2 separate regions of the Homo sapiens genome follow, and region 1 is linked to region 2. The links come from fine-mapping of genetic effects on gene expression. A gene starts in region 2. The other region holds a variant in brackets. All regions are shown on one strand. Distances are between the middles of the regions.

Evidence for each region. PIP is the estimated chance that this variant, and not a neighbour inherited with it, causes the effect.
Region 1: its variant is the best candidate, but not a certain one, in a credible set for the expression of SMIM30 in sigmoid colon (GTEx, PIP 0.62).

What each region holds. Positions count from the first base shown.
Region 1 is chr7:113,144,501-113,148,901 of GRCh38, reverse strand. LOC107986837 reads right to left here. Exons shown (of 4, transcript XM_047421162.1): 3 at 3,127-3,239; 4 at 2,461-2,862. The coding sequence ends at 2,776. Among named protein-coding and RNA genes, the nearest start is that of SMIM30, 28 kb to the right of the region's middle. The variant G/A (reference allele first, on the strand shown) is at 2,173.
Region 2 is chr7:113,116,006-113,120,406 of GRCh38, reverse strand. It overlaps SMIM30 (small integral membrane protein 30), which reads left to right and starts at 1,853. Exons shown (of 3, transcript NM_001352688.2): 1 at 1,853-1,879; 2 at 2,246-2,339; 3 at 2,800-3,689. The coding sequence starts at 2,829. The coding sequence ends at 3,008. All of the region lies in intron 2 of LOC107986837, which reads right to left. RefSeq lists enhancers at 1,454-1,593, 1,488-2,082.

The DNA of each region.
Region 1 (4,401 bases), 28 kb before region 2:
CTACAGACACATTAAAAAATATTTTTAAATTGTTGTGGGTATATAGTAGGTGTATATATTTATAAGGTATGTAAGATATTTTGATACAGGCATACAAGGGGTAATAATCACATCAGGGTAAATGCAGTATTCATCCCCTCAAGCATTTATCCTCTTTGTGTTAAAAAAAAAATCCAATTATACTCTTAAAATAACTACAACCACATATTTTAGAAGAGCTGTAGACATCCCCACAGGTATTTCTTCAACTCCCATTCATGCCTCAACTCACTGGGTCTGTTTCTACCTTCACCACTTTCATTAAAGTCATCAATAACCCCTTCCTTGTTAAATCCCATGTGTGCATTTTTGTTCTGTTGCTTAATCCTTGACAGGTTTGTCCACTCTCTCCTACTCCTGAAAATGATATCTTCACTTGGCTTCTGTAGTACTACTTTTTTTTACTTTCTTCTTAACTCCCAAGGGGCTCTGTTTCCACTCACTTTGAATGAAACTCATTCTCTACCTGTTCTTTAAATGTTGATGTTCTCAGGCTCATACTGTGGTCTCCCTTTTTTCACACCCTACCTTATTTTCACCCAACATGGGTGATCTCAACCATCCCTATAACTTCAGTTATCATCTACATGCTGATTACTCCCAAACCAGACTGCAAAGAGCTGACACAATTTCAGCCATCCTGCCTAGGACACTACTCTTTCAGTCTCTGCCTGTGCCCATGGAGTATTGGCACCTAATTTCTAGATATACCAGGCTTCATTTATGAGAAAACAGTCCTCTTTGAAGCTAAAATTGACAAGAAAAAATAAAATATACTATTTTGTCAGCACTTACCTAAATTGTATTAAGTAAACACTAATCTGCATGTTTATTTGTTTAATATCTCTCTTCCTTTGAGCTATGAGGAATGCGGTGGAGATTTTGTCTTATTTACCACTGTATCTCTAGAGTCTGACACAATGGGTTCTCAATAAATAACAGTTAAACATTGATGCAATTTCACTTGGCACCTCTCACCTGAAAGGATTCTCAAGCATCCTTTCTGAGGGGATGTGGTATACCTGATTATATGTAGGTGCATAGGAGTGCAGGACCTACCAAAAGACCTGTCTTGTTAAACAAGACCACATGTTGCTGTTCAACTCAGAGTAAATACAAGCCATGATTATTAATCTGAGTAGACGGGGTTGTGCTACATTAACAAGCAAACCTAAAATCTCAGTGCCTCAAAAATATCAGGTTTATTTTTTGCTCATGCTACATTTCTACTGATGTTCCCTACCAACAGAAGCTGTATGAGAAGTTTTTTGGACCGAATTGTGTCCTCCAAAAGTTATATGTTGAAGCCCTAACTCCCAATGAAACTGTATTTAGAGATGAAGCCTTTAAAGAGGTAATTAAGGATAAATAAGGTCATCAGGTAGGGCCCTAATCCAAGAGGACTGGTTTCCTTAAAAGAAAAGGAAGGGACACAGGGATGCTGGCACACAGAGAAAAGGCTGTGTGAGGACATAGCAAGAAGGCAGCCATCTGCAGACCAAGGAGAGAAGCCTCACTAGAAACCAAACCTGCAGGTACCTTGAACTTGGATGACATCCAGCCTCCAGAACTGTGAGAAAATAAATTTTTCTTGATTGAGCCACCCAGTCACAATATTTTGTTATGGCAGTCCTGGTAAACTAATATAAGAAGTAAAAATGAAGTCACTGATGCCAATAATCCTATTCATCTGGGACGCTGAGCCTGTCCTGTGAAATTTCAAGGACCAGTCAGAGGATTGGTCCAATTTTCATCCACTGCCAATTGGCAAGAATGTGCTGAAGGGCATGGCACATGATCTCACTCTCCAATGAGACTCAAAGTCATTCCAAACAGTCATTCTTTCTATTAAGACAACTCTTCTTCGTAGAGTATTGAACTCTACCTGAGTGGGCAATTCACTAGAAGGCAATTCACCCAGCAGCAGGACACAGCAGATCTTTAGGAAGAAGGTAGCCCTGGTGGATCCAGATAGTCCTCTCCTTAAAAAGAGTTCTGAAATACTGCATTTCCTCAGTAATACAAGTCACAGATGCATTTGGTCTTTGACAGCAGCCCATTTCATCCCTCTCCTAGTCTATCTTCTCCTTACTGGGCTTCCCCATGCTTCCTCCAACTCTATAGGCTTTGCAC[G/A]TAGACACACTCCTGGAATGTAAACTGAGGAAATGTTCTTATCTGTCTCACTGACCTCTTCCAGCTCTGGATAAATGAGTTATTTTTTAATACCAGACTTAGCAAATCACAACTCTGATTCAGGATGCAAAAAAAAAATGAATTCTGTCATTTAAAAACCAGTAAGTTATCAAAAGTCCCATATATTCTATCACTGTATTCATAAAAAAATATGACAACTTTGCATGTGTTTATACGTTACACAAGTCAGAAATATGATTTTAATTATGCCACAAAACAAAACAACACTGTTGATACAAGGTCTTTAATAAGGTTGGTTACATTGAACAACAAGAAACAAATGCTCTAACAGATTATTTTTAAACCATGTGGTATAATGGCAATGAGTTTATTATCATTTCTAATGACAAAATTAAATATGCAATTATGATTCCCATCCCTCAGTTAGATAGAAAAGGAGTCCCAATCTAAATTCTATGTGATGCCCAGAAATAAAGAATCTGAACAACCGCAGTTATCATGATGACTCTTTGGAGTTAGCTCCCATCTGTCTCTGACGAAGTCTCCAGTTAACCCAGAAGGCGTTATTGCCCTGAGACAGGCTCAGGAAACTCCTAAACCAAAGAAGCTACAGTTTTTGATTGAACAGAAACTCTGAGAATGGATTACCTGGGGAAGTGCCAAGCTGCCCTGAAAAAATACAAAATTTATCATCAAGCTATTGTTGGAACATCTCTACCCTTTGGGAAATCATCCTAAAATTGCTTCCAATCCCAGTGGCTGCTGTCTATCTCAGGCCTTCTACTTCCTAATTGCATTCCCATTTTGATCCCTTATGACTAGATCATTGAGTATCCCTATCTCCATCCTATTTCTTAGCCCTTTTCTGAACTTTCTGTTCCCAAGAGGTTGTCCCATGTGTCTTCTTGGTTCAGGTATTGTCTGACCACTCACAGTGAATTGACTTCTCTCCACAGTCTGCTGCTGCCATCTTTCCACAGCCTCCTCGCCACAGTGTCTTAGGAAGCAGTCATTCATCTTCATGGACCATCCCCACCTCATCTCTTCTGTGTAGCAGCAGAAACAAAAAGAAAGAGGATGTTTTGCTATGATTGAGTTTAGTTTGGTTCTTTGGGGTTCTATCCTTGGCCCTCTGCTCAATGAAGGAGTAGTTTCAGATATTTTCCCCTCATCCCAGACAGAACAACAGTTTCTGATTCACTTCATCCTCCCACTGTCTCCGCCACAACCACACAATACCTTTCAACAGTGCCTTCTGCCAAAAAGCTTGGCCACTTCTGCCCTGAGTCCTACAGGTAAAATTAGCATAAGATTCATGTTTTCTTTTGAACTTTGCTTGACTTATTTTTCTAAAGGTTTTCTAAACTCTCTTGCACTTAAACCCATGTTGTAATGCTGTTAAGTCATTAAAGCAAAGTAAAACAAAGAAAACAGCTTCAGGGTACTGCTTTTTAAAATCTTAAAGGATGAAGTCAAAACAAGAATTTCCAGAGTGGCTCTTTGGTGAGGAGGATCTGATGTCTCAAAACATATATACAGTCACTCCCTACCTCACAGAGAGGCATCCCATAATAGCTCTTCCTTGCTGTGTCTTTCCCAGCAGTTGCCTCCCCTGCAATGCTGCCTGCTGCCTTGCTTCTGTTTGACCTTTGGGGAGGTCTCTGCCCTTTTTCTCAGATGCACCTACTTCAGGTTGCCATCTCACAATGACTGAGGTATTTGCTGTCACTCATTCACCCCATGCATCCAGGAAAGTGATTACAATGCAGTTCTCTCTTTGAATAAATAATGTAGATCTGCTGATTTCTGAATTTACTCTGTGTGGAGGTCAGTTCCAGAAACACTCGTTGCTCTCTCTCCAAAGCTTCTTTTCTCAGATATGTGTAAATGATTACTGTTTATTATCTCTCTTAGTGAAGGAAAGAAAGAAAATAATGAAGAAACACATGTATTGATCACAGATCTGAAGCCAAGCAGTGTGTTACGTGTTTGCACATGCATTTTTATTTTTGCAACAGCTGAGTCTCTGATTTGAACACAGTATGATTCCAAAATCCAGATTCTTCCCAATACATCCCACTGCCATGCGCCACACAGAGCAGATGTCCTTTTAAGAAATATGGGAAGAATAAATATGGGATGAGTGGCTGTTGTGCTAAAAAGAATTGTCTGTGACTTCTGTTCCAGTCTCTCACTGACTTTGCCTCA
Region 2 (4,401 bases):
CTATCATCGCCTTTTTTAGAAGAGAGACCAAACATGTACAACATGGCAGTTATTATCCTGGTCAGCAATCTAGCCAAAATATCTAACCTGGTTTACAGCTAGGAAATAACAGTTCACTGAGATAGAGTGAAGGCATGTTAAAAATCACACAGTAGGAGCAGGTCAAAGCAGTGAAGGAGATTATCATATTCATGGTACTCCAGAAATTAATCCTTGCAACTACATCAGCTATTACTGGAACCCCGCCCCCGAGATCGACATTTCCCAATATAATATATATTTCACAAACTAATAAAAACCATCATAATTTAAAGAGAAAGTTTCTTGCCACTTACAGACTCTTTAAACTTAAAACCAAACCATTATCTTTAATGTTGACGTGCCTAGAAACAAGTCTGTAACAATACTAACTTTAAAGTAGTCTCTGCTGACTTCAGCTAACTAAAATAAACACATAAGGAAAAATAAACATGTAGGGAAAAACAAAATGTTCACAGTAGGATATGAGAGAATATTTTGGAAGCTATAAAAATATAACTCCTATTCCAAATATAATTGATTACAAAGGCACGAAAGTAGCTCAAAACAAAGGATGAAATGAACAAAACCTTGTTAAAATAATCAAGGTTAGAGAAACAATGCTGACGTTATTGTGCAGTTATTCTCAGATTTCCAATTTTCTAGTCACCTTGGTTTGGTTTATTTGGCACCTCTCGGTCTCTCATAAGATCTTGTTGGCATATTTATCTAGTCAAATCATTATTATTATTAGGCAACATTACTGAGCACCTGCTGGGTGCCGGTTAGGAGCCAAGAATATAAATCTTTGCTAGAGAGACTAGGAACGTGTAAGAAAAAGGGTAACCGACAACACAAGAATACATGCTAATTATTGGCATTGAACTGAACGTACCTGCATTATCTAACAGACTGAACCAGGGGACTTTCAGACCAGGCAGGTGGCTTCACACCCAACCCTCATCATTAATAATTTATAATGTAAGGATAGCAAATAAATTTTCAAATCAGTAAATATGAAAGAGTTCAGAAGATCAGATGACTAGAAAGGTTCAGTAAGGAGTTCACAATTAGCAGACAATTGAAAGAGCGCCTTTCAGAAAGGTTACGACTTACATATACAAATAACTAATTCTTGTTTTATGATTTAAAAGCAGTATTTTTACATCTTTTCACAAATATGTAGGGACATTTGGGGCTGAGGTTTCACAAAAACATAGGTGGGAAGGAATCACCGCAGTGCACTCCTGAATAGATTGTCACTTTAGGACCTGAATCCTGAGAGATCTTCTGCAACAGGGCTAAACCCATTTTTCCTAAACTTTATTTTGCACTACAAATGTTTTTTAACCTTTTACGATATGTCTTATTAACCGCGCTTTTTCCCCATTGACTAAAAAATTAATAAATGGCATATGTTTCATTAGGAAGATGGTGACAGAGATTTCCTGCTTCAGAAACGTTGGAAGCCACTGGTTTAAAAGCACCCGGAACAGAGGGCTGTACTTGGGTTCTCTCTCCCCGCTGTGTCATTTCAGTCGAAGAAAAAGACAAAATTACATGTGCGCCTTACAGACTCAACAGGGTAGAAAACACTTGCTATCATTTCTTTTATTTTGAAGTGAGCTTTTATATAAACACACGAAACCATCTATTTAATAGTAAAACGTTGGGCAGGGAAAGGAAGTCCCGCGCGTTCGCGACTCTTCGCCTCCGCTAGAGCGTGACCGTCACGCCCTCTGCTACTTATAGGGGGAACGCGCCGGGGCATCATAGGAGTCGGCGGCGGCAGGGATTGTGGGAAATGTAGTTTGGAGACTCCGCCCTCCTCGCCATTCCTGTAATGGCTGCTTCCTAGAAGGTAATGTACGAACTCGTCTCCAAAGGATACTTAGGTTGCACCAGTGTATTTGTAAAACAGGAGCAAATTTGGACCTTGCCGGGCCAAAGTACGAATTCTTTTTCAAATCTTAATATCAAGTCCTGAAATGAAATTATCTCTGTTCTGTTTCTTTTTACCTTTTCTTGTGTGGGTGAACTGACCAACTTTTAAGTCTAGTTCCCTGTTGGACAGACTTTTCTCAACTCATTACCTATCCCCCTACCGTCCATATGGCCTCCACGCTCTGCACTGACTCTAGCTGCCTCTTTAAAATAATAATAGTAATAATAATTAATTTTTAAATCCTTCTCTCCGCCCCCTCCCCACCCCCCATGCTAATAATAGGTCGTGTCACGTGGAACCTCTTAATCTCAGCATCCGGAGCTCCAGGAAGGGAAAATTTCAAGTCAGATAGAATTCTATATATACCATTTCTTTGGTAAGTCTTATTAATTCCCCACAACTTCGCAGAGTTATATGTTGTGTGACTTTTGCCAAATTTGTCTGCATTTCTTGGATGGGAGAGACCCTAAGAAAATGTACAATTTTTACCCACTAGGATATTTTAAGTTTCCAAGTTAGTGGCTCGTGCTTTTTTTCTGTTTGTTCTTAATTATGAACTCCTGTTCAATTTTTGTTTGGTTGATGCACGAGGTGTTGGCATTATCGTGGAAAATTCCTGGGTTTAGAGTGTTATCACGAGATAGGGAGATGAACCTCAAATTACTGTCTTTAACGTCCCTCTGTTTTTCCACCTATAAGATGAGGAGATGGATTGGAAATGATTCATAAAGTATCCAAAAGATTGGCTGGCCTGTTATTTGTCATGTGTTCATTTTGTCATTTGAAAAGGGAGGAATTTTTAATGGTTCCTTTTTGTTTCCATGTTTAATTTCTAGGAACCTTCAGCCCTCAAGATTCCAACATCATGACCTCAGTTTCAACACAGTTGTCCTTAGTCCTCATGTCACTGCTTTTGGTGCTGCCTGTTGTGGAAGCAGTAGAAGCCGGTGATGCAATCGCCCTTTTGTTAGGTGTGGTTCTCAGCATTACAGGCATTTGTGCCTGCTTGGGGGTATATGCACGAAAAAGAAATGGACAGATGTGACTTTGAAAGGCCTACTGAGTCAAACCTCACCCTGAAAACCTTTGCGCTTTAGAGGCTAAACCTGAGATTTGGTGTGTGAAAGGTTCCAAGAATCAGTAAATAAGGGAGTTTCACATTTTTCATTGTTTCCATGAAATGGCAACAAACATACATTTATAAATTGAAAAAAAAATGTTTTCTTTACAACAAATAATGCACAGAAAAATGCAGCCTATAATTTGCTAGTTAGGTAGTCAAAGAAGTAAGATGGCTGAAATTTACATAAGTAATATTTCATAATCTTAGAATTCTCTCAAAGCATGTGAAATAGGAAGAAGGAAGTTCTTGCCCAGAATCTTAGGAAATCACCACTGTTCGGTTATAATCACTGCCTCCTGAATCGTTGAGGAGTCTTTTAAATTAGATTTTTGTTTTGTTGTCTCCCAAGTTAATATTATATTTAGATATCAGAGAGTCAGGCAAAAAGGAAAACTTTTATCTCTAGGGAAAAAACATTTAGAAAAATGTATTCAGTGTATCTAATACTGAAATGCGGAAAAAAATTTAATGTTAAAAAAAAACTATAGACATTGACATGGAAAAGAGATTTAATGTTTTGAAAAAAAACTTTATATTAACTGAGTAACATCCTCCTGATGAGAAGTACTATATTAAATATAAACCCATTATGTTATAAGTTAATGTTTCGTGTCCATTTCTTATTTGGGGCTGTTTGTATCCATTGTGGATTTTTATATGAGCTAAGTGGAGAAGGGCAGGATGCCTTGTGTTAACTGATTGCGGTAGCTTGAAGAGACATAATGAGAACTGGGCAGCATTAAGGTCAGAGAAGCCCCTGATAGAAAATCTAGAAATATAGAAGGAAAATGAAATGGCTTAAACTGATTTGTACGCCAGCCAAACGAAATATCCTCTCTGGCCTAGCTACTTAAAGTGTCTTCAAGCCAGCAACATCACCTGGGGCTTGTTAGAAATGCAGAATCTCAGGCCCCACCCAGACCAATTGGATCAGGAACAGCATTCGTTTCCAAAGCCCAAGTTAATTTGTATGCACATTACAAATTTAAGAAGACTGCCAACTTGCTTGAGCCCAAGAATCATTCCAGGCACTTGATAAGACTTTTTGATTCCCTGGTCTTTCTCCTGGTTGTATAGCTGTGAGATGGGGCCTGGAACTCCATGTCTAACAAGGGTCCTCAGTGATTCATTTGATTCTCAAGTTGTAGCCAGCATAAAGTAGTCTAAGGAAATCAAACTTTAGGGTCACACTGGAGGTAAGTAGTGAAATTTTTTCCTAAAATGCATTTTCCAATCTGTAGCTCTCCAGATGACATTGGGAGCCTCATTTTTTATCCAAAAACAGGCACTAGCAACCTAAAGTCCTGTTTATGGT